Linked DNA regions of Homo sapiens. The protein of the gene in region 1 interacts with the protein of each later gene in a biochemical or structural test. Each region holds a gene or a part of one and is shown in the gene's direction. Other genes may lie near its edges. The genes, in order: UBE2G1, UBA1, ZRANB1 and AMFR.

Evidence for each region.
Region 2: of the proteins of UBE2G1 (region 1) and UBA1, one has a biochemical effect on the other in vitro, tested with the Homo sapiens proteins (3 studies listed by BioGRID, with this or other methods).
Region 3: the proteins of UBE2G1 (region 1) and ZRANB1 form a complex in vitro, tested with the Homo sapiens proteins (one study listed by BioGRID).
Region 4: the proteins of UBE2G1 (region 1) and AMFR form a complex in vitro, tested with the Homo sapiens proteins (7 studies listed by BioGRID, with this or other methods).

Annotation. Positions count from the first base shown.
Region 1 is NC_000017.11:4,268,756-4,272,715, reverse strand, and holds the end of UBE2G1 (ubiquitin-conjugating enzyme E2 G1), read left to right. Parts: intron 1-199; 3' UTR 200-3,457; downstream 3,458-3,960. UniProt on the Homo sapiens protein: Accepts ubiquitin from the E1 complex and catalyzes its covalent attachment to other proteins. In vitro catalyzes 'Lys-48'-, as well as 'Lys-63'-linked polyubiquitination. May be involved in degradation of muscle-specific proteins.
Region 2 is NC_000023.11:47,196,812-47,203,854, forward strand, and holds part of UBA1 (ubiquitin-like modifier-activating enzyme 1), read left to right. Parts: exon of another isoform or gene 1-179; coding exon of another isoform or gene 180-213; exon of another isoform or gene 214-1,391; coding exon of another isoform or gene 1,392-1,544; intron 1,545-1,579; exon of another isoform or gene 1,580-1,645; intron 1,646-1,991; coding exon 1,992-2,108; intron 2,109-2,236; coding exon 2,237-2,295; intron 2,296-2,397; coding exon 2,398-2,566; intron 2,567-2,668; coding exon 2,669-2,803; intron 2,804-4,082; coding exon 4,083-4,189; intron 4,190-4,464; coding exon 4,465-4,555; intron 4,556-4,666; coding exon 4,667-4,799; intron 4,800-5,344; coding exon 5,345-5,442; intron 5,443-5,546; coding exon 5,547-5,693; intron 5,694-5,826; coding exon 5,827-6,003; intron 6,004-6,131; coding exon 6,132-6,236; intron 6,237-6,322; coding exon 6,323-6,403; intron 6,404-6,729; coding exon 6,730-6,885; intron 6,886-7,043. UniProt on the Homo sapiens protein: Catalyzes the first step in ubiquitin conjugation to mark cellular proteins for degradation through the ubiquitin-proteasome system.
Region 3 is NC_000010.11:124,937,401-124,945,156, forward strand, and holds the start of ZRANB1 (ubiquitin thioesterase ZRANB1), read left to right. Parts: upstream 1-4,722; 5' UTR 4,723-5,056; coding exon of another isoform or gene 5,057-5,093; coding exon 5,094-5,907; intron 5,908-7,756. UniProt on the Homo sapiens protein: Ubiquitin thioesterase, which specifically hydrolyzes 'Lys-29'-linked and 'Lys-33'-linked diubiquitin. Also cleaves 'Lys-63'-linked chains, but with 40-fold less efficiency compared to 'Lys-29'-linked ones.
Region 4 is NC_000016.10:56,401,546-56,408,545, reverse strand, and holds part of AMFR (E3 ubiquitin-protein ligase AMFR), read left to right. Parts: intron 1-429; coding exon 430-582; intron 583-3,301; coding exon 3,302-3,342; intron 3,343-3,504; coding exon 3,505-3,637; intron 3,638-5,427; coding exon 5,428-5,561; intron 5,562-6,702; coding exon 6,703-6,813; intron 6,814-7,000. UniProt on the Homo sapiens protein: E3 ubiquitin-protein ligase that mediates the polyubiquitination of lysine and cysteine residues on target proteins, such as CD3D, CYP3A4, CFTR, INSIG1, SOAT2/ACAT2 and APOB for proteasomal degradation.

The DNA of each region.
Region 1 (3,960 bases):
ACTTAATGGCAATTAATTTACATTTAAAATTAAATATACCCACGTGGCTGTGAGCTACCATAATAGATAGAAACAAAGTGAGCTCAGAATGAAATTAAGGATTTGTTGTCAAATAAATCTAATATGGATAAAACCTACTTACAGTTAATTCTTTTGTAATTGATGAATTGACTATATAATGTTGTTTTTGTTGTTGTAGGTCTCCAATTGAGAAACATGGCACTGTTTTTCCTGCACTCTACCCACCTATTGCTGGACTTCTGTTGTACAAGTTGGCAAACACTGGCTGGAACTGGGCTGCAATAAAACATGCCAGTTATCAATGCTGACAAGAGCCTAACAAGTGCCAACTTACAGATGATTACGCATTTTGAATTCTAATGAACTGTTTTAACCTTCAGGAAGAATTGTAAAGACCTGTACATAGCACAACATGATCCGGATAATATATATACTGTTCATGTACATCCACAAATACACCTTGTACCAAATAATGCTTTCTTGTAGTAGAATAAGAATCGTGTAAATTCTAAGAGATTTTAGCAGGTTTTCTTTCCTATTCATTGTTTCTTATCAGTTTAAAAGGATTCCTTTAAGCATGTCAGATGAAAAGCAATTAGGATTAAAAGTTTCCATTTAATTTCCCTTAAACCCTTGAGGCTTCATTAAACTCTTTTCACTTACTAAACTTTTGTATCTTCTTTGTTTTGACACACTCCCCTTTGCTTTTATCTCTTACCTGCCAGAATGTTCTCAAATGATTTAGTTCAAATACTGAAATACTTAATGAGCAATTACTTGATTTTTAATGATGACTTCGAAGGAGTCATCACTAGGTGCTTTGTCCTTTTTGTATTCTAGTTGCACCCACCTCTTGGATTGGATATAGCAATAACATTTATTGGCCGTTGTGAGCTCTTGATCCCAGTCATTACCCCTGAGAACTAAAAATAGATGGTTCTTAATTCAACTTACTGAAAATTTCCCCAAACAATAGCAAATCTGACTTTTCCCTCTTCAGTTGCCTGGTATTAAGGTTGGATAAATGAAGCATGCACAGCTACAGGCTTTCTACTTAACTTCTGGGTTTGCTATTACAAATCCTATTTACTCTCATACCCTTCTCCTTAGTCCTTCATATTTCTCTGCCTCTATTCTTCTATACTGCAGATTTTTCTCACCTATTGTACAAAGAAATTGCGATGTATATTTTCATGTAATTTGATTTTGGAATTCTGTCACCTTATGTAGTGAGTTCTTCCAAAATATAATTTTTTTTCAATAATTGTCAAGTTGTTGGCTTTTATTGTATTGAATGAAGGCTATAATACTGAGTGCCAGAGAAGTGGTTTAGGAAAATCTCAGGTTGATTCCTTATGCAAATGAACTTTTAATACTTGAAAATCACATGGCCATGGCAGTATATGTATTTGGTTCTATCTAGATTCTTCTGTGAATCTAAAAGCATTACAGGGGTAAATGCTTTGCTATTTGACGTATAGATCCCGTCACTAACAATAGTACACTTGGATGTGATTAATGTTTGAGCTTCAATATATTTCATATCATACAGTTTTCTAAAACAACTTCAGCAAATGGTAAAATGAACATGTGCAGTGTTAAAGGCAGGCCTTAGGCTCCTTCATGTTTGTTGTGAGGTTGTGTGTGGGAAGTAGTCTTTGGCTTATAAGGGATAGAACTTGAGACAGTAGCAGATGGGACATGGTGTTTGATTGTGAGAATCAGTGAGAATTCGTGCATCTCTGCTCTGTGGGGTTTGGAGAAATGCTTTGGCAGAAGAGTGAAAGAACTCCTGCCAAGAGCCCAGACCTCTACAAACGTTGTATGTCCTTTTTTAAGCAGAAATAAAATGGTTGAGGATGTAGTCACAGTAGAGAGTGATTTTTTTCTAAGTCCCTGTCCTCTACTCTGAAGCGTTATAAAAACCTGTAAACATTATACAAACCCACAAACCTTATAGAAACTCGTAAGTGTGTTGTGACTGGAAATTGATTCATTAGAACCCAGTTTTCTTTAAGAACTTTGTGACTTGGTTTTTTTTTTCCTTTTCCAAAGACTGTAAAAATAGTTGCCCCAAAATGTCAGCACTGCACACCCTCCAGGGACTTGGAATACAATCCTTTTTACTTTTTTTTTTTTTTTTTTAAGAAACTGGGTCTCTCTGTCACCCAGGCTGGAGTGCAGTGGCAACGATCATAGCTAACTGCAGCTTTGACCTCCTGGGCTCAAGTGATCCTCCTGCCTCAGCCTCCTGAGTAGCTAGGACTACAGGTGTATGCCACCATGCCTGGCTAATACAAAAAAATTCTTTTAAGAGATGGGATCCCTCCCTTTTAAAATCAGAACTTGTTCACATGGTGGTTGCTTGTGGCAAAACGGAGTTCAAATTTTGCTCTCCTATTGCTATAATTCTGCTAGCAATCTGTTGAGGTGAAACTTGGGATCTGACTCTTCAGCAAGCAGCAAATGACCTAGTAACTCAGGGACAACTATTTTTGAACTTTAAGTGCCACTTTAATGCAGTTAGTTTGATAAAACCATGTGGGTTTTTTTTTTAGGGCTAGCTCTACGGGAGTGGAAGTGAGAGCCAGGCATGAGTGCGTCTCCACATGCTTTTCCACCTGCCCTGAGTGTGTTACATACTGAAACAGGCCTACATAGATGTTACAACTTCCCTTCCTCTGTCGGAGATGTCATCTGTGCCTTTCTCAGTGTTCATCTGATAATGTAAATTTAAATGCCTCTACATTTGATACGAAACCCACATTCAGGTGACACTGAACGAGGTGGCTTTTGTCCCACCAGTGCCTCATCAGTGTGAGGCGATTCCTCTCTGCTTTAGGAAAATGATTTTTCCCCCTAAACTTGTGCCAACCATCAACAACATCTCCATAGATCTTATGGATTGTAGAACTGTTGGCTGTTTCCTAAATTTATTCCAAGTTCTCGTAGAGGCATATAGATTTCAGTCTGTGCTTGTATGGGATAGATGATCTGAGTGGCTTTCTGGCCTCTTTTTTGAGTTTAAAATCCATATGAGGTTGACGTGTCATACTAAGGTAACATGTTTGTGAGGTTATTCCACTAGTACTGTGATCACGTGGGTGTCAGTATCTTTAACGGCCTTCATTCTTGGTTGTGAGATTTTATTTGATATGCCCACTCACCCTCGACGAATCTGCCCGCTTTGGGCTGTGGTGCCTGTGTATCTTTGCCCGTCTGGTCTCCAGTTGGTGGAATTACCTTTTTTGTACTGCCACTTCTCAGCATCTTTGAAATTTGACATAATGTTGCTTCATTTCAGTTTTTTTAGTTCTGTAATTTGTTGATTGTATTTAACTATGTGAGTTCTGTTGTGATGTTTACTGTATTGTAAAGCACCTCATTCATGTGATGAGTGCTCTATAAATCAATAAATGATGACTTAGAGGCTGTATCACGAGCTATTTTGGTTTTAGGATGCAGGTCTCAAAAGCAAGTTGTGGGACTCTTTCTGTATAAACAGCACATGATACCAAAGGAACCACAGGGAAACCTTGTATTTTACAGACTTTAAAGAAGGAACCAGAGAAGTTAACTTGCCTTCCAACCTGATAATGATGCTCTTTAGATTTCCAGTACGTGGCCATGCACCGTTTTAACTCAGAGTTTGTGTGCACTGTGATTTATAACCTTCGAGTGAGCACTTATTAGAACATTATTGGGGATTTTGTCTTTGGCCTAAACTGGCTCTACCATAAAGGTAAGCTGAAAGGTGAGGAACCCAGACTCAAATGTGAACTGGAAGAGACTGCAGGCACCATCTCAGTCACCACCTCTGTCCTCTAAACAGACGGGAAAATGCGCCAATACCTGCCCAGGGGTCATTTAGTAAGTTACTGACAAAAGAGGCAAGACTGAGTAGAGAACCTTCTTTACAAGATACACAAGATATCAACA
Region 2 (7,043 bases), on another chromosome or scaffold:
TCCCAAACAAACTGACCAATGACAAGGCAAGGAGATAACTAAGTAATAGAGGCCACTACACGTGCCCAGGGAGGAACTCACATCCTCAGGTCAGTGAGTTCTGACCACAGACCTTGGCTTCTTTAACCCTGCCAGCAGCCCCTTGAAGACAGTTTCATTTGTCCCAGCTTTTGGAGAAAATGAGGCTCAGAGGAAATGAGATCTCTACCCCAGGTCAGTCAGAGAGTCAGTAAATGGAAAATATGGTTCACCTTTGTCTCTACTAACTCACCAAGCCTCTTGCTACCCAGGTTGGCTCTTAGCATTCTAAGCAATTCACCTGGCTATCTCAGGGGCTCCAGCCAGCCTGCTGCCTCCCCTCATCTCCCATTCCTTAGCCCTGTGGACTGGGCCCTGAGCCCAGGGGCATTTGGCAAACAGTCCCCCACCAGCTGCATGCCTCTGGGCGAGTGAATGGGGTTCTCTAAGCCTTTCTTTTCCCATTTGTGATTTGGGCATAGGGTTATCTGGGTCATGGGGATTGTTAAGATTAGACAAAGCCCTTTCCTCTTTGATTGACACACAGTATGCTCTTGGTAGATAGTAGGGAGCTCTTGTCATTGTGGTTGGTGCTAGTGACAAGTGCCAAGATGGAATCTTAGGTACATTGGGATACTTAGTGTCATAAAAGTCTCAGTGTGGGAGGACTTGTGTGAACAGAAGACTCAGTGCCTAGAGGAGCACTTGGGGTGAGGGGAAGTGACGCTGGGTCCTCCCATCTCCAGCATGTGGACCCAGTCACCCCCACCACCAGATTTCACTTCCACAGCAGGCTTTATTGTTCTGTCTCTGGGACCTAGCAGGTGACCCTGGGCAAGTTACTTCTCATTTGTCCGGCAAGGACACTAAACTCTGCCTTGCTGGGTCAGGGTCATGGAGGGGATGAAACGTGATAACACGAGGAAGCAGCCTGGGCTTCAGAGTCAGCAGATCCTGGTCTGGTCCCAGCTCAGTGTGTGGGAACCTTGGTCACCGAACGTCCCTGAGTGAATTTTTTTCCATCACTTTAAAGTTGGGGGTATTATTGATAGCAGTCCAAACCCCACAGGAGTACCCTGAGGACAGAGTGAGACGAGGTTTAGAGAAGTGCTTACTATGGCATCTGGCACAAGGAGGACTCCTGATCAATCTAATACTCATTTATCATTGTGGTTAACCTGTTTAAGGGACTCCGCATGCAGATGAGGCTTGGGATGTGTTTGTTTTCTATCTTTTTGCAACCTCTTTTATTGGTCTGTGTCGGTTTTCCCCTCCCAAAGCTGGGGGCAGGGTTGGGCTTTATAAAACTTGAGCCCCTCTGGGGACTGGGTTCTCAGCAAGTTACCGCTCCTGCCATCATGCCACCCTGATGGATGTCCAAGCCTCACTTCCCTCCTGCACTCCCCGCTCCCGCCGCCATCCCTGGGATTAAGGGAGAGGAGAATGGCTGCTTGTTACTGCCTACCTACTCTGTGCCAGGTTCTATGCTCTGTGTTATTTATCATCTCGATAACCCCGTGGGGAAGGTAAGTGGTATTATCACCCCTGTTTCACAGGTGAGAAAACTGAGGCCTGTGGCGGTTAATTATTACTGTTAGTGCGTGGCAGGCTCAAGATTTGAAACCAGGTCTGTCCTGAATCCACATCCTTCCCCTGACCTCGACACAAGTACATTCTTGTCATTCCTTTCACTCCAGGATTGGAGTCTCTCCCTCATTATGCTGGGCTGGGAAGAAGCAAATGGCTTAGTGGTCAGCAGTGTGGATTTGCAAATCAGACCACCTGGGTTCAGATCTTAGGTCTGACAGCTGTGTTACCCTGGGCAAGTCCTCACCTTTCTGTGCCTGTCCCCTCTTTGCTGTAAAATGGGGGTACTAATACTTAAGTCTTCCCTTCCCCCACAGTTGCTACTAACAAACAGAAAAACGGTACCCATGTGCTCCAGGGTCACCTCTGACCTTTTTTTCCTCCAGATGTCCAGCTCGCCGCTGTCCAAGAAACGTCGCGTGTCCGGGCCTGATCCAAAGCCGGGTTCTAACTGCTCCCCTGCCCAGTCCGTGTTGTCCGAAGTGCCCTCGGTGCCAACCAACGTGAGTGTCCTCTCCGTGGAGACTGGCAGACGAGGTGGTGGGTGGGAAAGTCTTTTGTATCACTGTCTGTCTATCCATGCTCCACTCCTGTGTGTCTCCCTAAACTTGTTCTTTTCCTCTATTCCTAGGGAATGGCCAAGAACGGCAGTGAAGCAGACATAGACGAGGGCCTTTACTCCCGGCAGCTGTAAGTGGGGCCAAGGCCGGGCTGAGGGGTGTGGAATGGGACATTGAGAGGATAAGGTTGGGTGGGGCAGGCCCTGACCTAGAGTACCCCCTAACCTGGCAGGTATGTGTTGGGCCATGAGGCAATGAAGCGGCTCCAGACATCCAGTGTCCTGGTATCAGGCCTGCGGGGCCTGGGCGTGGAGATCGCTAAGAACATCATCCTTGGTGGGGTCAAGGCTGTTACCCTACATGACCAGGGCACTGCCCAGTGGGCTGATCTTTCCTCCCAGGTACCTCTTCCTAGCACCCTTCCCCCTTTCCCCCTTCCCGAGGCACCACTGTTCCCGGTGCCACAGCCATTTCATCTTTTTCCCTACTGCACACCCTTACAGTTCTACCTGCGGGAGGAGGACATCGGTAAAAACCGGGCCGAGGTATCACAGCCCCGCCTCGCTGAGCTCAACAGCTATGTGCCTGTCACTGCCTACACTGGACCCCTCGTTGAGGACTTCCTTAGTGGTTTCCAGGTATCTTGGGGGTACTACCCAGCCTTCTGCCCAGTTTTCTCAGAGCCCATCTCTGGTTTATTCAGTAGTGTTCAATATTGATTTAATGGGTCGGCCTGAATGTCAGGTTTTGTGCTGGGGGACTAGAGTATGCAGGCAGCAGTTAGCCCCTGGCCCTGCCTTTTCTTTTCTTCTTTTTTTTTTTTTGAGACGGAGTCTTGCTCTGTCGCCCAAGCTAGAGTGCAGTGGCGCGATCTCGGCTCACTGCAAGCTACACCTCCTGGGTTCACGCCATTCTCCTGCCTCAGCCTCCCGAGTAGCTGGGACTACAGGCGCCTGCCACCACGCCCGGCTAATTTTTTTTTGTATTTTTAGTAGAGACGGGGTTTCACTGTGTTAGCCAGGGTGGTCTCGATCTCCTGACCTTGTGATCCGCCCGCCTCCGCCTCCCAAAGTGCTGGGATTACAGGTGTGAGCCACCGCACCCGGCCTGGCCCCGCCTTTTCAAGTGGGGAAGATGTGTACAGACAGTACAGCATAGTGGTTGTGGGCACAGACTGTAGAGCCATACTGCCTTGCTGCAGGCCTCCAGCCTTGGTAGTGTGACTTCAAGCAGGTTGTTTCATCTCCTGTACCTTTGTTTTCCTGTTTGTAGTCAGTGCGTGGTAGCAGCACTGACTTCATGGACTTTTTGTGAGGGTTAAACACGTGGAATTGCAGCTGGCATATAAGGACTGGATGGGTGTTTGTTAATTAAAAAGTCCAGGCCGGAAAGAGGTGCTCTGGAAGCTGAGAGTTGTCCCTGGAGTATCCCAGGTTGCCAGGGCACTGCAGCTAAATCCTGATGGAGGAGTAGGAGCTCACCCTGGTGGGGAAGGATGGACATTCAGGCAGAGAGCAAAATCCCAAAGATCATGGCGGAGCAGGCGTCGTCTTGAGAATTGGAAGCAGGTGGGTGTGGTAGGAGTGAGCTCAGACTTTGGCTGGAGACAGAGTTTTACTCCAGTGTCTCACAGGGCATGGCAGACAGACAGCAGCGGGTGTTTGTCAAATAAATGAGTCAGCTCTTCTCCAAACTCCCTCCTCCCAGCTACCTCTTCACCTTTCCTGGTATAGTCCAGGGGTTCATTTTCGACCCCCACAGAGTCTGATACACAGTAGGTGCTATGTGTTTGTGAAAGAGGCTGACCCAGCAAAGCCTGGATGTGTTTGCCTTGAGGACTGCCTGAGTCCTCCACACCAGCCCTCCATTTTTTCCCCTTCACCCCAATGCTGGGCCTGAGCCTCCATCTCTCCACAGGTGGTGGTGCTCACCAACACCCCCCTGGAGGACCAGCTGCGAGTGGGTGAGTTCTGTCACAACCGTGGCATCAAGCTGGTGGTGGCAGACACGCGGGGCCTGTTTGGGTGAGTGGCAGCCCACCTCCCTCCCTGTCCCCTTTTCCCCCAACTCCTACCAAGCCCAGGCCAAGACTCTAGGCTCTCCCTGCCCTCATCCCTTCTCAGCTACCCAGGTTTTGGGTTCTGTGTTTTCATCTCTCCCCATGTGGCACAAGTACCATCTTACATCCCAGCAGTGATAGGCTGAGTTTGCTCAGCAAGTTTTCACTACATCTTGAGGGACCCGTGGGACCTGTATGTGCATGGGACACAGGCACCAGCCCTATTGCTTCCCTCTACAGGCAGCTCTTCTGTGACTTTGGAGAGGAAATGATCCTCACAGATTCCAATGGGGAGCAGCCACTCAGTGCTATGGTTTCTATGGTTACCAAGGTAAGGAGACCAGCCCTAGGGTTCCTGGCAGGCAGGTGGGCTGCAGTAGTCCTTCCTGTCTGCTCTTGGTACCCTGGGCCTGTTTCTGAGACTCACTCTTCCTTTAACCAGGACAACCCCGGTGTGGTTACCTGCCTGGATGAGGCCCGACACGGGTTTGAGAGCGGGGACTTTGTCTCCTTTTCAGAAGTACAGGGCATGGTTGAACTCAACGGAAATCAGCCCATGGAGATCAAAGTCCTGGGTGAGCTGCGACCATGGGGGAAGCAGAGGGGAACTAGAAGATATGTTCCTGGGTTCTGGCCGGGGAGTTGAAGGGAGAAGACATGGCCCTTGGTTCAGAGTTGGGAAGACACATCCTGGTGTTTGAGATGAACTACAGACAATCCTGTGGGGTCCAATAAGAGCTGGTGGGCATGGGGGAGAGGTACTGTGTTTGAGCTATTCCTGGGAGAATGTGTCCCTGGTATCTGAGCTGAGTGGGGAAAAAGTCTCTGGTGTTTGAACAGGGCAGATCAGCGGATCTACTTGTGTGTGAGCTGATTTGGATGGGAAGCAGAGAAGGTCTTCCCGTGTAGACTTGGAGCCAGGGACACAGGGTCTCACGGGGTCTGAGCTGAGTCTGGGGCACAGGAGAGATGGTTTCTGATGTCCAAGTGGAGCCTGGAGCTGAGGGAAGACAGCTTCTGATGTCTGAGCTGAGTCGGGGCAGGAGGTTCCTTATCTTGCAGGGGTTGTGGATTTTAGGGAGAATGGGTAGACTGACAGCTCTCTTCCTGCCCTCTGTAGGTCCTTATACCTTTAGCATCTGTGACACCTCCAACTTCTCCGACTACATCCGTGGAGGCATCGTCAGTCAGGTCAAAGTACCTAAGAAGATTAGCTTTGTGAGTGTGTCGATGGGATCAGTGGGCTGTGGGGGGTGGTTCTAGGCATTCCCTAGTTCTCCATTCCTCTCTTCTGGTTCTGATGACCTCTCCCCCCGCCACAGAAATCCTTGGTGGCCTCACTGGCAGAACCTGACTTTGTGGTGACGGACTTCGCCAAGTTTTCTCGCCCTGCCCAGCTGCACATTGGCTTCCAGGCCCTGCACCAGTTCTGTGCTCAGCATGGCCGGCCACCTCGGCCCCGCAATGAGGTGGGTGAGTGGGCGAGCCAGCCAGCGCAGACATGCCTGGCACTGCAGGCTCACCATGCCTCTCTGCGTGTCCACACTCCCTGCCCTCACTGTGGCCTGACATATCCTCTCTTGGTTCTTTCTGGCCCACCAGGAGGATGCAGCAGAACTGGTAGCCTTAGCACAGGCTGTGAATGCTCGAGCCCTGCCAGCAGTGCAGCAAAATAACCTGGACGAGGACCTCATCCGGAAGCTGGCATATGTGGCTGCTGGGGATCTGGCACCCATAAACGCCTTCATTGGGGGCCTGGCTGCCCAGGAAGTCATGAAGGTCAGCACGGGTGGGGAGAGGCAGGATTGGGGTGGGCCAGGTTCCTCCATGACTCTGTCACTTGCTCTCTGTCTGTGTCAGGCCCCTGTTAACCACTGACCACCCCCTCTCTCCCTTCCCCTCTCCAGGCCTGCTCCGGGAAGTTCATGCCCATCATGCAGTGGCTATACTTTGATGCCCTTGAGTGTCTCCCTGAGGACAAAGAGGTCCTCACAGAGGACAAGTGCCTCCAGGTATGTGGGTGGGACCTGTGGGGAGGGCATCATTGGGGACATTTCTGGGGAGGCCTCTCTAACCCTCCTCCCTTTGCATTCCTTAGCGCCAGAACCGTTATGACGGGCAAGTGGCTGTGTTTGGCTCAGACCTGCAAGAGAAGCTGGGCAAGCAGAAGTATTTCCTGGTAAGTGGTCCCCTTGGATGTCTGCTCCCCTCATCTTGGCCTCTGGCCATCACCCCTGGGGCTTCCTTCGGCATCTCAATGCAACCGGTGGCGCATTCTCTTTGCCATTCTCCTTATCTTGAAGGGAAGCCCAGTGCATCCCTCGTTTCCCCTTCTGGTGCCTCCTTCCTCACATGACTGCGTGTCATTTCTTAGAGTCCTGCAACCTGAAGATGTGGTGTTAGCCCCTCTCCCCGTCTCTCAGGGGAGTGAGGGGTGATGGGTAGCTTCACACTAACCTGCATCACCCTGACCAGCCTCTGCCTGTCTTCTTGGTTGCTTCTTAGGTGGGTGCGGGGGCCATTGGCTGTGAGCTGCTCAAGAACTTTGCCATGATTGGGCTGGGCTGCGGGGAGGGTGGAGAAATCATCGTTACAGACATGGACACCATTGAGAAGTCAAATCTGAATCGACAGTTTCTTTTCCGGCCCTGGGATGTCACGGTGAGTAGGGTAGGAGGTTGGGGCTTTGTCGTCTCACTTTCCTCCTTTTTCTTTTTTTTTTTTTTTTTGAGACGGAGTTTCGCTCTTGTTGCCCAGGCTGTAGTGCAGTGGCGTGATCTCTGGCCCACCACAACCTCTGCCTCCTGGGTTCAAGCGAT
Region 3 (7,756 bases), on another chromosome or scaffold:
GTCTTGAACTCCTGACCTCAAGTGATCCACCCGCCTCGGCCTCCCAAAGTGCTGGGATTATAGGCATCAGCCATTGCGCCCCACCGAGAATTATTTCATTTCTTCAGTTCTCTATGATTGTTTAGTAGGTGGTTGGGGAAATTTGTAGTGTAGCTACAATTTTGAGGAATTGACTTCAATATAAATATAATTCTTGTACAGTGTTTAGTAATGCTTCACAAATATTAAACATGACAGTATAAAAAATGTTCCATTATGTAAGTCCCTTTCCCCCGCCTGCTATTAGTACATATACCATATTTCTGCACTTTTATTATCTGAATTGGAAAGTATATAATTAAAAACAGTTACGAATTTAGTACTTGTCAATTTAGTAGTAGTAAATGGTTGATATATTTAGAGACATTATTCATTCTACAGGCAGAGCTTGATGCACAAATGGATTCCTGGTCTCCTTGGTCCACAGGATGGGAACTGTTGGTATTGCATTTGAACCAAGGAATATTTGTCTTAAGAGTAGCAGTTTTGTCCCGTTCTCCTTAAAGAAGGCCTAGATTATGTTGATTTTATTGTGGTTTTATTTTACCAATTAATTGAAGTTTGAGTCCTTGGATAGAATTTGCAAATCTGCTTTGCATGCAAAATTAAACTTGTAAACTAAATTTACTTGGGCGTATGAATATATTTAATACTTAAAGTGATATTTGGTAAGTTTTATTTCAAGGTAGAGTATTAACTTTTAGAGCTGGCTACTTTGGAAATAATTTTATGTACTTTTTGGAATGTTTTGACATCTGGAAAAAGTGTACTCTGTTAATTTCTTTGTAATACTGCAAAAAAACACATAGTTCAGTTGATGTTATCCTTACTGTTCAGTGCTGTTTACTAATTACCACAGGTAGAAATGGCTGTCTCAGATAATCTTCAATGAATTTTTTCTTTTCTTTTTTTTTTTTGAGACAAAGTCTCACTCTGAGTGCAATGGTGTGATCATGGCTCACTGCAGCCTCAAGTCCCCTGGGCTGAAGCGATCCTCCTGCCTCAGCCTCCTGAGTAGCTGGGACTACAGGCATGTGCCACCACCCTGGGCTAATTTTTGTATTTTTTGAAGAGATGTGGTTTTGCCATGTTGCCCAGGCTGGTCTCGAACTCTTGGATTCAAGCAATCCACCTACCTAGGCCTCCTGTGCTGGGATTACAGGCGTGAGCACCTAGCCACTCTTCAATGAATTTTACCTTGCAGTTACTAAACAACATTCCTGCAATGTTTCAAGTTCTCTCAGAGTGAACACTGTACATCATTACGTTTTTTTTTTTTTTTCCTTGAGACAGCCTTGCTCTGTCATCCCAGGCTGAAGCACAGTAGCACAATCATAACTCACTGTAGTCTTGAACTCCTGTACTCAAATGATACTCCTTCCTTGGCCTCCTGAGTAGCTGGGACTATAGGCACAGGCGACTGCACCTGGCTAATTAAAAAAAAGTTTTTTTTTTGGTCGGGCATAGTGGCTCGCGCCTGTAATGCCAGCTCTTTGGGACGCTGAGGCAGGTGGATCACTTGAGGCCAGGAGTTTGAGACCAGCCTGGCCAACACAGTGAAACTCCGTCTCTACTAAAAATAAAAAAATTGGCTGGGCATGGTGGGATGCGCCTGTGGTCCCAGCTACTCTGGAGGCTGAGGCAGGAGATTCACTTGAACCTGGGAGTGAAGGCTGCAGTGAGCCAAGATTGTGCCACTGCACTCCAGCTTGGGTGACAAAGTGAGACTGTCTCAACAACAACAAAAATCGTGTTTTTTTTTTTTTTTCCTTTTTTGTAGTGATGGAGTCTTGCTGTGTTGCCCAGGTTGGTCTTGAATCCTGGACTCAAGTGATCCTCCCACCTCATTCTCCCAAAGTGCTGGGATTAAAGACTTGAGCCACTGTGCTTATTATCTAATATAAGGCACATCTCAAAACTCTTGAGCTTGGTTTTGGTATTGCTTAGTTACCTGGATTTTCAGAGGTTGGTGGGCTAATTAGGCAGCTGTCTGTCCATTATTTTACCAGGCATTTATGACAGTGATTATTTTTTATGACAGTTTTTTGTTTGTTTTTTAAATCAGCCTGGACATTTAAATATATTGTGCCAGCATATTAGTTACATGAAGATTAGCTAAGATAACATAAGGTTACGGGCTGTTTAGTTGCACCTACAAACATAGTAAGACTTATCAAAACAAGTATGGATTTTGAATGTGAATATTTTAAAAGATATATTGAAATTACTTAGAGTAGCCCTGGATATATGTTCATTATGGCATTTATCTTGTTAATAAGTTTCTACATGCTCATTTTAATTTCCAGTAGCATGAGCAAGTAACTTATATTTCATTCCCGAGAAACTAAAAGAATCTGCCTAAAGAGTATGAAAATTGCCATTAAATCTGTATTGTCTACTTTCTGGATGGTTATATCATTATAGTTCTCTGCTCTTCCACACATTTTTGGGCTGCTATCAGTTTGTAAGTAATCATTATACAAACTAAATTTAAAAATTTAAACAAGATAATTTTATATTACTTGGATCAGGGAAAAAAATGCAGTTGCTGAAGGTGGTTTCATAGCTAAATATAAGCAATTATTTTGCTTTTTCTACTTTTTTGGATTTTATCATCTTTTCCCTTTTAGTAATAGAGTAATACAGGTAGGAATTAACTTAGCACTGCCAAATTAATAGTAATATTAGAACTGTGTACACAGCACAGGGTTAAGGTTATATAGAAAAATGTCTCATCCATGTTTAATTTGGCTGACCAGCCCAGTTGATTAGCCAATTTTATTGTTTTGTTAAATTAAAATTCTAAATATAGTTGTCCATTGTTAAAATAAGTGAGTAGGGTTAAAATAGAGAATTGATAAAAATAAAGCCTTAAAAATCTTTTAGCTAAAGTAGCAGGCTTCAAGTGAAATTCAGTTTTGGTCTCCTTTACAGGAATAGCTATTCAGTCAGACAGAACCACTTATCACGTTTTGCAGTATCTCCTGAGGAAGTCAGAATTCTGAGCCAGCATGAAGACGGAATCTTGTCTTTGATCTGATTTGCAAACCGTACTTTTATTCTAATCATGTGCAAGGTGGAGGTTATAGCGTGGGAACTAAAATCTTAGTAAGTGTGGTTTTTATTTTAGCTATTAAGTAGTATACTTTCTTATAGTGATTTTTTTTTCTTCTTAGCAGAGTTCACACTATAAATGGTGTATGGACTTGGCAGGCAGGAACATAATACAGTATACTTCAAAAGTGAAAGATTTAGGCCAGGCGTGGTGGTTCATGCCTGTAATCCTAGCACTTTGGGAGGTCGAGGTGGGTGGATCACGAGGTCAGGAGTTCATCAAGAGAAGCCCGGCCAAGATGCTGAAACCCTATCTCTACTAAAAATACAAAAATTAGCCGGGCATGGTGGCATGCACCTGTAATCTCGGCTACTTGGGAGGCTGAGGCAGGAGAATCGCTTGAACCTGGGAGGTGGAGGTTGCAGTGAGCTTAGATTGCACCACTCCACTGCATTCCAGCCTGGGCAAAACATAGCAAGACTCCATCTCAAAAAAACAAAAATGAAAACAACAACAACAAAAAAACAAACAAACAAAAGATTTAACCCTCTAGGTTCAGGAAAAATCCCTGAGAAAGAGAGAGCAAAGCTTCTATACTCTGCCTAGGATTTCTTTCTCTTTCCGGGTGAAAAATAGGTGTTGGGATGATACTGAGTTGATAAAAGTATTTAGGAAAAGTGGCCAGTGTCTAAATTCAAGCCATTAAAAAAAAAAAAATTAAATTTGTTATGTAAGTTGCTTCATTTATGAATTAGTTGCCATTAAATTATGAAGTCTTTCTTCATTATAGTGTAGTGTTAGCCCATTGTTGAATCCTAGAAATCTTTTAAGTAGTGTGAATATCTTTTAAATATGAATTGGATTTTTTGGGGGGCAGGGGATGGAGTCTCACTCTGTCACCCAGGCTAGAGTGCAGTGGTGCGATCTTAGCTCACTGCAACCTCTGCCTGCCGGGTTCAAGCAGTTCTCTGCCTCAGCCTCCTGAGTAGCTGGGATTACAGGCACCTACCACCATGCACGGCTAATTTTTGTATTTTTATAGAGACGGGGCTTTACCATCTTGGCCAGGCTGGTCTTGAACTCCTGACCTTGTGATCTACCCGCCTCAGCCTCCCAAAATGCTGGGATTATAGGCTTGAGCTACTGCCCCCGGCCATGAATTAGATTTTGAGTATATTTTAAATATTCAAAATTTAAAATATTTTAATTATGAACATTCACAATTATATTGGAATGATTATGCTACTGGTTATTTCAGTGACCTTCCACAGATTTAATTTTCCCCAGTACAGTCTTCTTTTTTTTACTCCAGATAGAACTAGATTTTGAGGCTACAGATTATCAAGGAACTACCTATTTCATAATGTTACTTTGTTAATTGTAGCCATTACTTCTCAACATGTTTCTTTACTACCTGTGCTAATTAAGAACAGTGGATAATTAGCATTTTAAGTTGCTTTTCTCCCTTAGCGAGAATGATAAAATAGACGTTGCTTGATCTTCTGAATTCATGAATCATAATCTGTGTTCATAATTTGAGAATGGTTATGTGTTTAAGCTATTTTTTAGTTTGTGTTGTTTCCTCTACCTTTGTCTCTTTAAACTATTGGTTACTTTTCTAAATTGATGTGATGGCCTCCCTGAAATTAAACATTTCTATTAGTGGCTTCCCGTTAATCTCATCCTTCTTAGATCAAACCTCGTTATATCTCCTGCCTATCTCTTTTGCATTCCAAAGTTCAGTTTTATTAAATCCCAGGGTCTAAGATTTTTTCTTTGAGAATTTATCTCCAGTGTTTCTATGGAAATTAAAAAAGAAAATTAGGATAATTCAATGTCGAAATGTTGCATGCATCTTTTGAGAAATTTATATTTTGTAGGTTGAAGGACTTGCTTTTTGGGCAGCGTATTTTTGGAGGTGGAATGTAGTTATTTTAATAACCATGTCCTAATTATTTATAGCTTCCTGCCTGACACAGCTCACTTCAAGAAGTGCACAATGTCAGAACGTGGAATTAAGTGGGCTTGTGAATATTGTACGTATGAAAACTGGCCATCTGCAATCAAGTGTACTATGTGTCGTGCCCAAAGACCTAGTGGAACAATTATTACAGAAGATCCATTTAAAAGTGGTTCAAGTGATGTTGGTAGAGATTGGGATCCTTCCAGCACCGAAGGAGGAAGTAGTCCTTTGATATGTCCAGACTCTAGTGCAAGACCAAGGGTGAAATCTTCGTATAGCATGGAAAATGCAAATAAGTGGTCATGCCACATGTGTACATATTTGAACTGGCCAAGAGCAATCAGATGTACCCAGTGCTTATCCCAACGTAGGACCAGGAGTCCTACAGAATCTCCTCAGTCCTCAGGATCTGGCTCAAGACCAGTTGCTTTTTCTGTTGATCCTTGTGAGGAATACAATGATAGAAATAAACTGAACACTAGGACACAGCACTGGACTTGCTCTGTTTGCACATATGAAAACTGGGCCAAGGCTAAAAGATGTGTTGTTTGTGATCATCCCAGACCTAATAACATTGAAGCAATAGAATTGGCAGAGACTGAAGAGGCTTCTTCAATAATAAATGAGCAAGACAGAGCTCGATGGAGGGGAAGTTGCAGTAGTGGTAATAGCCAAAGGAGATCACCTCCTGCTACGAAGCGGGACTCTGAAGTGAAAATGGATTTTCAGAGGATTGAATTGGCTGGTGCTGTGGGAAGCAAGGAGGAACTTGAAGTAGACTTTAAAAAACTAAAGCAAATTAAAAACAGGATGAAAAAGACTGATTGGCTCTTCCTCAATGCTTGTGTGGGTAAGTTTCTGTATTCTGCATTTTTTGCGTGGGATGGGAAAAGGTAGTAAAAATGATATGAAAAGAGCTGGGTGCGCTGACACACGTTTGTGGTCTTAGCCACTTGCTTGAAACCAGGAGTTTGAGGCTGTAGTATGCCATGATCGGTCTGTGAATAGCACTTGCACTCCAGCTTGGGTAACATAGTGAGACTGTGTCTCCACGCACATGCAAAAATGTGAGTGTGTGTGTGTGTGTGTATATATATATGCGCAAAGTCACTAGCATTTGATTCATTCAGCACGATAGCTGTACTTTCAAGTATGCATACATAAAAATTTGTGTATTTGTGATCTTGTCGTAACTTTGTACTAAATTGCCCACAATTAATTGTGTTCATGTCTCTCCATTACTGGGGGCAGTGGAAACGTTTAAGTTAAAGCAAAGTTTTTACACATCAGCAGTAAAATATATACCTGGACTTTAAAACTGCTACTCTGTTTATTGTAACAAGATGTAACTGAGGAACACCAGCTGCTGTTTCCAAGTATTTGTAAACAGTGTGAGCATCTTGTGATGATAGAAGCTTTAGTCAGATGTTAAAAATACCACAAAAATGTGTGACTCCAAGAAGTTGAACAAACATATTGACCTTGAAAATACTGGTGTTAATTTAACATGAATGTCATGTAGTAAATGTTTGCAAACTTTATGGAACTGATTACATGTAGCCAGCTGATTCCATACTTCAAGTTATGGTTCATATGTATTGTGACATTTTCCTCAGGAAATGCTGTTAAAGGACAGAGACATAGGAGAGCAGAGTTTTTCTTCAGTTCTTGACCTTGTGAGTTAATTGTGATGTAATTCACAAAAGCAGTGACTTGAGTCTTCAGTATTTTTTTTTTGAGTAGATTAGATGTTTGATTTTTATTAAATTATTTGGATGGGCTGCTTGCTTTGACATTTGGTCTTATGAGGGAAATTTTGAATGATTACTAAGTTTAAACTTTGTGTGGAACAATAGCTAAGCTTTAACTATACCTTAGCTGTATGTTTTCCCTCAGTACCAATTTCTTTTATTTATCCCTCTGGGTACAGCCCAAGAATATGGAAAGTTTAGGTGTATGAACCTGTGAGTCCTAGGAATTGATTTCCAAGAAATCGTGAGTTTTAAAATTAAATTATATATATCATTCCCCCCCCCCCCCCGCCCCAAGATGGGATCTCACTCTGTCACCCAGGCTAGAGGGCAGTGATGCAATCATGGCTCACTGCAGCCTCAACCTCCTGGGTTCAAGTGACCTGCCATCTCAGCCTCCCCAGTAGCTGGGACTCCCCATTAGCATGTACCACTATGCCCTGCTATTGTTTTAAATTATTATTTGTAAAGATGGGGGTCTACCTATGTTGCCCAGGATGGTCTTGAACTCCTGGGCTCAAGCGATTCTCCCACCTCAGCCTCCTAAAGTGTTGGGATTATAGGCATAATTTGCTGTGCCCAGCTGAAATCCTGAGTTTTCAATTTTAGCTTTGTTCTGGCAAAAAAGAATATCCCAGCAGATGAATCCTTCTGACCTCCAGACTTAGTAGGCACTTAGCAAGTCTTAGTTCTAGTTTCCTCCCATCCTGAGGATGAGGGGATGAAAACATACCGGGCTATCTTCTGTCTGTGTTGTCCCATTTTATTCCTCTGATTTTTCTGCTCCAAATTGAGGGGCAACATACAGTATGATTGTCAGTTAAAAAAATTTAAACAGGAGATACAAAAGGGTTTTGTTATTAGTTTCCTTAGAGATCAAATTGATTTAACATAAAAATTCACCGTTTTGCAAGTGAACAACTCATTTGGCATTTAGTGCATTCACAT
Region 4 (7,000 bases), on another chromosome or scaffold:
CAATTGTGCTAGCCCTAATAGACTAGGAATGCCAATTTCAGAGAGGAGGACTAGAGCAAGATTGAGAAAGAAACAGAACAGAACAGGCACTGTCCTGAGTCCTGTTGAAGGTGAGAGGAGAGAGTTGTATACCCTCGGAACATTGCTTCTAGAGGTTTATAATCCCAGTGCTAGGAGGATCTTTGAGAGTAAGGGATGAAAATATAATGCATATTGTTATACTCAGTAAATTAAATGACACGGATCTCTAAATATCACCTCATGCTCATATTTGGGTTATTGGAGAATAGGACCATATAGTAATGGGATGCTTTTCTGTGCTTAGCACAGAACCCTAAGCAGAGAAGCCAAGATTGACCTTGAATTTCTCAGTGAAGTTTAACACTTCCATGAAGAAGAATGAGCAGTTTCCTACTGTGTGCATTTCAGCTTTCCTTCTCGCCCACCACGCCGATGAGCAGCCACGGTCGAGTCCTGTCCCTGTTGGTTGCCATGCTGCTTTCCTGCTGTGGACTGGCGGCCGTCTGCTCCATCACCGGCTACACCCACGGAATGCACACCTTGGCTTTCATGGCTGCAGAGGTGAGATACTGGATGCAGGACTTGCTCAGATTGTATTTCTGTCTGTTTTCAAGGAAGCTGGATGTTTGACAAGTTATTTTCACCCATGAAATGACAGGTGGATATTTGGTCTTTCATTTTAACAAGCATTTCAGTTCCTTTTTGTGTGTTGGGTACTGGTACTGAATGCTTTTGTGTGGTATTTTATGTAACTCTTTCTTTACGTAGGGTATAAAGATTTTACAAAATAATGAATAAACTGTACTCATCATTTTGAAGGAAAAATCTGGTCTATTCATGAATATTTTAAGATTTAAAAATTTTTCACTCTTTTAAACCTTTCTGAAAATACCAATTTCTGTTCAGTAGAAATAAAAATTCTCCAGCCTGGCCAATATGGTGAAACCCTGTCTCTACTAAAAATACAAAAAAAAAATTAGTTGGGCGTGGTGGCGCACGTCTGTAGTCCCACCTGCTTGGGAAGCTGAGGCAGGAGAATTGCTTGAACCCGGGAGGCGGAGGTTGCAGTGAGCAGACATTGCGCCACTGCACTCCAGCCTGGGTGACAGAGCGAGACTCCATCTCAAAAAAAAAAAGAAATAAAAATTGTTTGTATGTCCTTATATTTAATGGCTATATTTGCCTTTTCTTCAGGCCAAAGGCAAAATACTTTTATCTTACCCATAATTAGTATTATTAATTAAAAAATGAGATATTAGATAAACTGAAGCTAATTGGCTAATATCAAAACACTACATTTGAACTACTCATTGGGAATTTGGTAGAGCAGAGTTAAAGTTTATTTCTGTTTGATAGCATTCATTTTTGAGTACATTTAGTAGTGTAAGTAAAATTAGAAAAGAAACATTTAAATACATAATGTTAATTATCATATTATAATATTGTAATTAAAATACAATAGTCCTAATATAAATAATAAGATATGTAATCTTAGGTGAATACTTCTGTATATGAAAAATATACAACCGTATTTCGTCTTGACAGAAAATCTGTTGAAAAATCCATTTACACTGACTTATTTGCTTTAGATTTATTGCAAAGTTAGAATGATACTTATGTTTGCCTTTTTTTGATTCTCTAACTTTCAACTAATATAATATTATCCAAACTTTGAAAAGGGTATACCTAAAAATAAGCACATTTAACTTAGGCCCGTCAGCTCATACTATAGTATATACTTTTATTTTAGCTTGTTACTGTTTATTCTTTTAAGATAATTTATCATATTACAGATTTGATATTTTAAACTAAATCATTTCTTACATTCATAGTGTTTCTCTCTCCTGTAAAATATTTTTCACTTACAAATGGGAATTTAATCTAAAACATAAATAATGTAATAGTTTTATTCTACTAGATTAAGAGGACTTTTTTTCTTAATGAAAAATATCTTTTTTTTTTTTTTTTTTTTGAGACAAGGTGTCACTCTGTTGCCCGGGCTGGAGTGCAGTTGCTTACTGCAACTTCCACCTTGTGGGCTCAAGTGATCCTCTCATTTCCTTAGTAGCTGGGACCACAGGCATGAACCACCATGCCTGGCTAATTTTTGATTTTTTTGTAGAGATGGGGTTTTGCCATGTTACCAGGCTGGTCTTGAACTCCTGAGATCAAGCAGTCGGCCTGCCTCGACCTCCCAAAGTGCTGGGATTACAGGTGTGAGCCACTGTACCTGGCCGTCAATTTCTGTAATAAAAAAAATACCCTTCAAGACCAGCCTAGCCAACATAGCAAGACCTTGTCTCTACAAAAAAAAAAAAAAAAGCCATGAGAGACTTATTTTGTCCCTCTCCTCTCCTCCCCTCTCCTCTCTCCTCTCCTCTCTCCTCTCCTCTCTCCCCTCTCCCCCCTCCCCTCCCCCCTCTCCCCCTCTCCCCCCTCTCCCCCCTCCCCCTCCTCTCTCTCCCCTCTCCTCCCCTCCCCCCTCCCCTCTCCCCTCTCCCCTTCCACTTCTTCCCCTTCCCCTTCCCTTCTGACAGGGTCTGGGGTCTGGCTCTCTCACCCAGGCTGGAGTGCTGTGGTGCGATCTCTGCTTACTGCAGCCTCCACCTCCCAGGTTCAATCCATCCTTCCACCTCTGCCTCCCAAGTAGCTGGGACTACTGGCACGTGCCACCATGCCCACCTAATTTTTGTATTTTTTGTAGAGATGGGGTTTCACCATGTTGCCCAGGCTGGTTTTGAACTCCTAAGCTTGAGCAATCCTCCTGCCTCGGTCTCCCAAAGTGCTGGGATTAAAGGTGTGATGTGGCTGGCCTTATTTTGCTTTTGATTGCTTTCGTTCTTTTTTCTGCTGGTGGACAAAGGGAGTGCACAAAGCACTAGGGAGAGAGCAGGTCCTCGTGTCTAGGATAGCAGTACCTGAACTATACTTGGAGTTACAGCATCACCCTTCTAAGTAATCAGTGATAGTGACTTAATGCTGTGTGAAATAGAATTGATGGTCAGACTACCAGGGTAAACCTCAAGATTGTAGGGGGATTCCTGGGGGGTAGGTGTAATTGGTTGTCACCTATTAACAGGACTTTTCCTCAATAAAAGTTGGGTTTCTAGGTCATAAAAATATTTTACAGAAATTTGAAGCAGAGAAAATAAAATAATGGGTAAACTTGAACAATCTGCTTTTTAATTGAACTGAGAAATGTTTGTCTTTTATCATTTTATAAAAAGTTTGGCCTGAGCAATGCTACATTTTACTAAAAAGAAAATATCCTTTTTTATAGTCTCTTCTTGTGACAGTGAGGACTGCTCATGTGATTTTACGGTGAGTGAAATTGGGGAGGGAGGTGATGGAGGCCTACTCATACAGTTGATTTTAAGATGTAGCAGGTATGAAATATATAAAAATCGGACTAAATTACAACATGGTTAAACCAAATTCAGTAGTAACAGTAAATTACTAAGGTGTTTTCTCTCTTCATTACAGATACGTAATTCACCTCTGGGACCTCAACCACGAAGGGACGTGGGAAGGAAAGGGGACGTATGTCTATTACACAGACTTTGTCATGGAGCTCACTCTCCTGTCCCTGGACCTCATGCACCATATTCACATGTTGGTAAGTTTCCTCAGAAGGAGCTCTAACAGAGGGCAAGCCTTTCAGAATCAGGAACAGTAATGGTTTCTTCATTAAAAAATGAAACTTTAGAAATAAGATGTGGATGGACTACTTAAAGACTAAAAATGAATGTGGCTGCAAACCCTCCCTCTTTTTGCCACTGGGTGTAAGGCAGTGCCATGGAACTGCTTTGGCTGGTGCCTAACTCAGGAGGTGTTTGCTGTCCTGGGAGACTTAGTTAACTCTGCTGACCAAGTCAATAGATTATTCTTTTAGCATGAAATTAAGGAGCTGCCTTTCCCCATAGTTTCTATGGCTTTAAATATTTAGCAGGTACTTTGTAGGTGGTAATGGGAATTCCTGCAGTGTTAGCTACTTCACAGATTTATACATTTTCCATCTTTGTAATTAAAAAAAGTCTTTACACTTAATTCCTACATTCCTACTACCATCATTGTTTACATTTTACTTTGGTATGTTAGACGTTACGGTGTCGTAGATCTGCTTCATTGGTTGGCCCTTCAGTGATCTAATAATGGTGAGAATTAAAATAGTTGGTGGGCAATTTATTTAAATTATAAGCCTAGCAAGTAGCATTTTAAAATTATTGGGCTAGACGTGGCACATTTCTAAGTCTACTTTTTGAAAGAAACTTTGAAAACATACTTTTTAAAGAAAGTATGTAATTCTTTTTTTTAAAAAAGAGCCTCGGCTGGACGCGGTGGCTCATGCCTGTAATCCCAGCTACTGGGGAGGCTGAGGCAGAGAATTGCTTGAACCTGGGAAATGGAGGTTGCAGTGAGCTGAGATCGCGCCACTGTACTCTATCCTGGGCGACAGGGTGACACTCCGTCCCAAAAAAAAAAAAAAAGCCTCCCTCCCCCCTCAAAAAGGGGACAAACAAATGGCCAAAGATAACTGTTAAGATTTTTTATCTTCTTTTTTTAAATTTTTTTTCCTCATGCTTGTATTTTTTGTATTTAACTGCTTCTTTTTATGTATTTTTTGTATTTATGTATTTTGTATTTTTATGTATTTTGTATTTAACTGATTCTTTTTATGTATTTGAGTACATACATTCATAAATTGAGATCATATTTTAGACATATAGTTCTGTTCTTTAAAAACTAATGTATTATGAACATTTTCCTGTGCTAACATCAGTTCTTCTAAGCCATTTTAATACTTTCAGGATAAAAATATCATCAGATAGCTGTACCATGATTTAATAAACCGCATCCCACAATGGGTTATTTAGATTATATTTGGTTGTTTGCTATTTCACATTTTACATATTTTTTATCATGTATTAGTTTGATAAAGATAGTTATATCTTGCTTTTTTCATTTATCTAGTACTATCTTCCCATAATTGACCTTCAGAACTGTTATATATACAAATATAATAGTAATATGTAGTTATATAGTATAATAAGTGAAATTAATGACTATATAATTTTACATTACATGAGTTTACAACCTAACTGTTCTTCTGGGCATTTTGTTCATTTTCATATTTTCTGTTTTATAATTGCATGGATAGACATCTTTTTGCATAAAGCTTTTCCATTTCTGATGAGTTTCTCAGGAAAGATGACTGGCATTGGAGCACCTAGGCTGACGAGGATGTGCATTGTTTAGAGTAATGAGATAAATCTGTGTATTTCCTTTCTGAAAGACATTGCAGTTCACCATCACCAACAGTGAAGAGCTTCCGCTGCATACTGCGCCTTCATCACTAGCAAGTTCACGTTCGCTTTTACCGTGTGTTTTATTCTCTTTCTCTCTAAGTTATTTGGCAACATCTGGTTATCCATGGCCAGCCTGGTCATCTTTATGCAGCTGCGTTACCTGTTTCATGAGGTGCAACGTCGAATTCGTCGGCACAAGAACTATCTACGTGTGGTTGGAAACATGGAGGCCAGGTAAGGAAGCACAAGTTGATGTTGCCTAAGTTTACTCATTTTAGTTTTTTAATAACAGCAGATCCCAGAGTATGTCAGAATGTATGTTTGTAAACTGCTAATAGAGTGGTGGAGAGGAAAGGCTCTGGAGTCAGACTGCCCGGGTGTGAATCCCCACTTAGGTGCTGTGTGATTTGGGGCAATTTACTTCACCTCTAAATTAGGGATGAAAACAGAACCTTCTGCCTGAACTATTGGGAGAATTTGGTGAGATAATTCATGTACTTAGAATGGTACTGGGCAGATAGTGCTCAGTATTAGGCTCTTATTTGTCATGATTTTATTGTCATTATTATCAAATAGACACTTCATTGGGCTTCTACCCTGTTCATTTCCTGAAAGTGGGTCTCAGTTCTTTGCACATGCATGTTTACACACACATACTTAACCTCATTGAAGGAGGCACTTTTTTGCCAAGCTGGGGCTAAGCCACGCCTGGAGGTGCAAGATTAATGGGTATCCTCTTTGCACCCAGGGGGACAGCTTGGATCTCTTCTTTGTGGCCAGGGACACAGATTGGATCTCTGGGGGCCTTACTCCTCTGATTTGTCCGGATATGGTCTCCGAGGTCTTCACTAACAGCAGCCATTATTATTATTATTATTATTATTTTGGAGATGGAGTCTCACTCACCCAGGCTGGAGTGCAGTGGCACAATCTCAGCTCACTGCAACCTCCGCCTCCCAGGTTGAAGTAAGTCTCCTGCCTCAGCCTCCTGAGTAGCTGGGATTGCAGGCGCCTGTCACCACGCCCGGCTAATTTTTGCATTTTTAGTAGAGACGGGGTTTCACCATGTTGGTTAGGCTGGTCTTGAACTCCTGACCTCATGATCCCCCTACCTCGGCCTCCGAAAGTGCTGGGATTACAGGTATAAGCCACCGCGCTCGGCCTAGCAACCATTATTTAGACAAAGTTCCTGTGCATAAGTTACTCACTTTTGAAAGGGCTTTGAAGGTAAATTATATTTTTGATTATCAAGAATGTTTTGCTGAACATGCTTTCTCTGTAACTGTGTTGTGATACAGGCGCAGTCTATCAAGTGGTGTTTAGTGTGCGTGTGGAACTGACTGAGGTTCCTGCTGGGCTTGTTTTGTTTCCACAGGTTTGCAGTTGCAACTCCAGAGGAGCTGGCTGTCAACAATGACGACTGTGCCATCTGTTGGGACTCCATGCAGGCTGCGCGGAAACTGCCCTGTGGACATCTTTTCCACAAGTAGGAGCTTTGTGAAGGGCCATGTGGGACAGGTGTTCTGTCCAGGGCGTGTGTGTGCTTTGTGTACCCAGGCTCGAGACTCATCCTAGTGGAGGAGTGGGGACATTACCTCAGCCTGGCCTTGCTGCTGGCACTGAGTGTTCTGGGAAGCTCTTGGGTATCCTTCTTTGTTCCTTAGCCTCTTCCC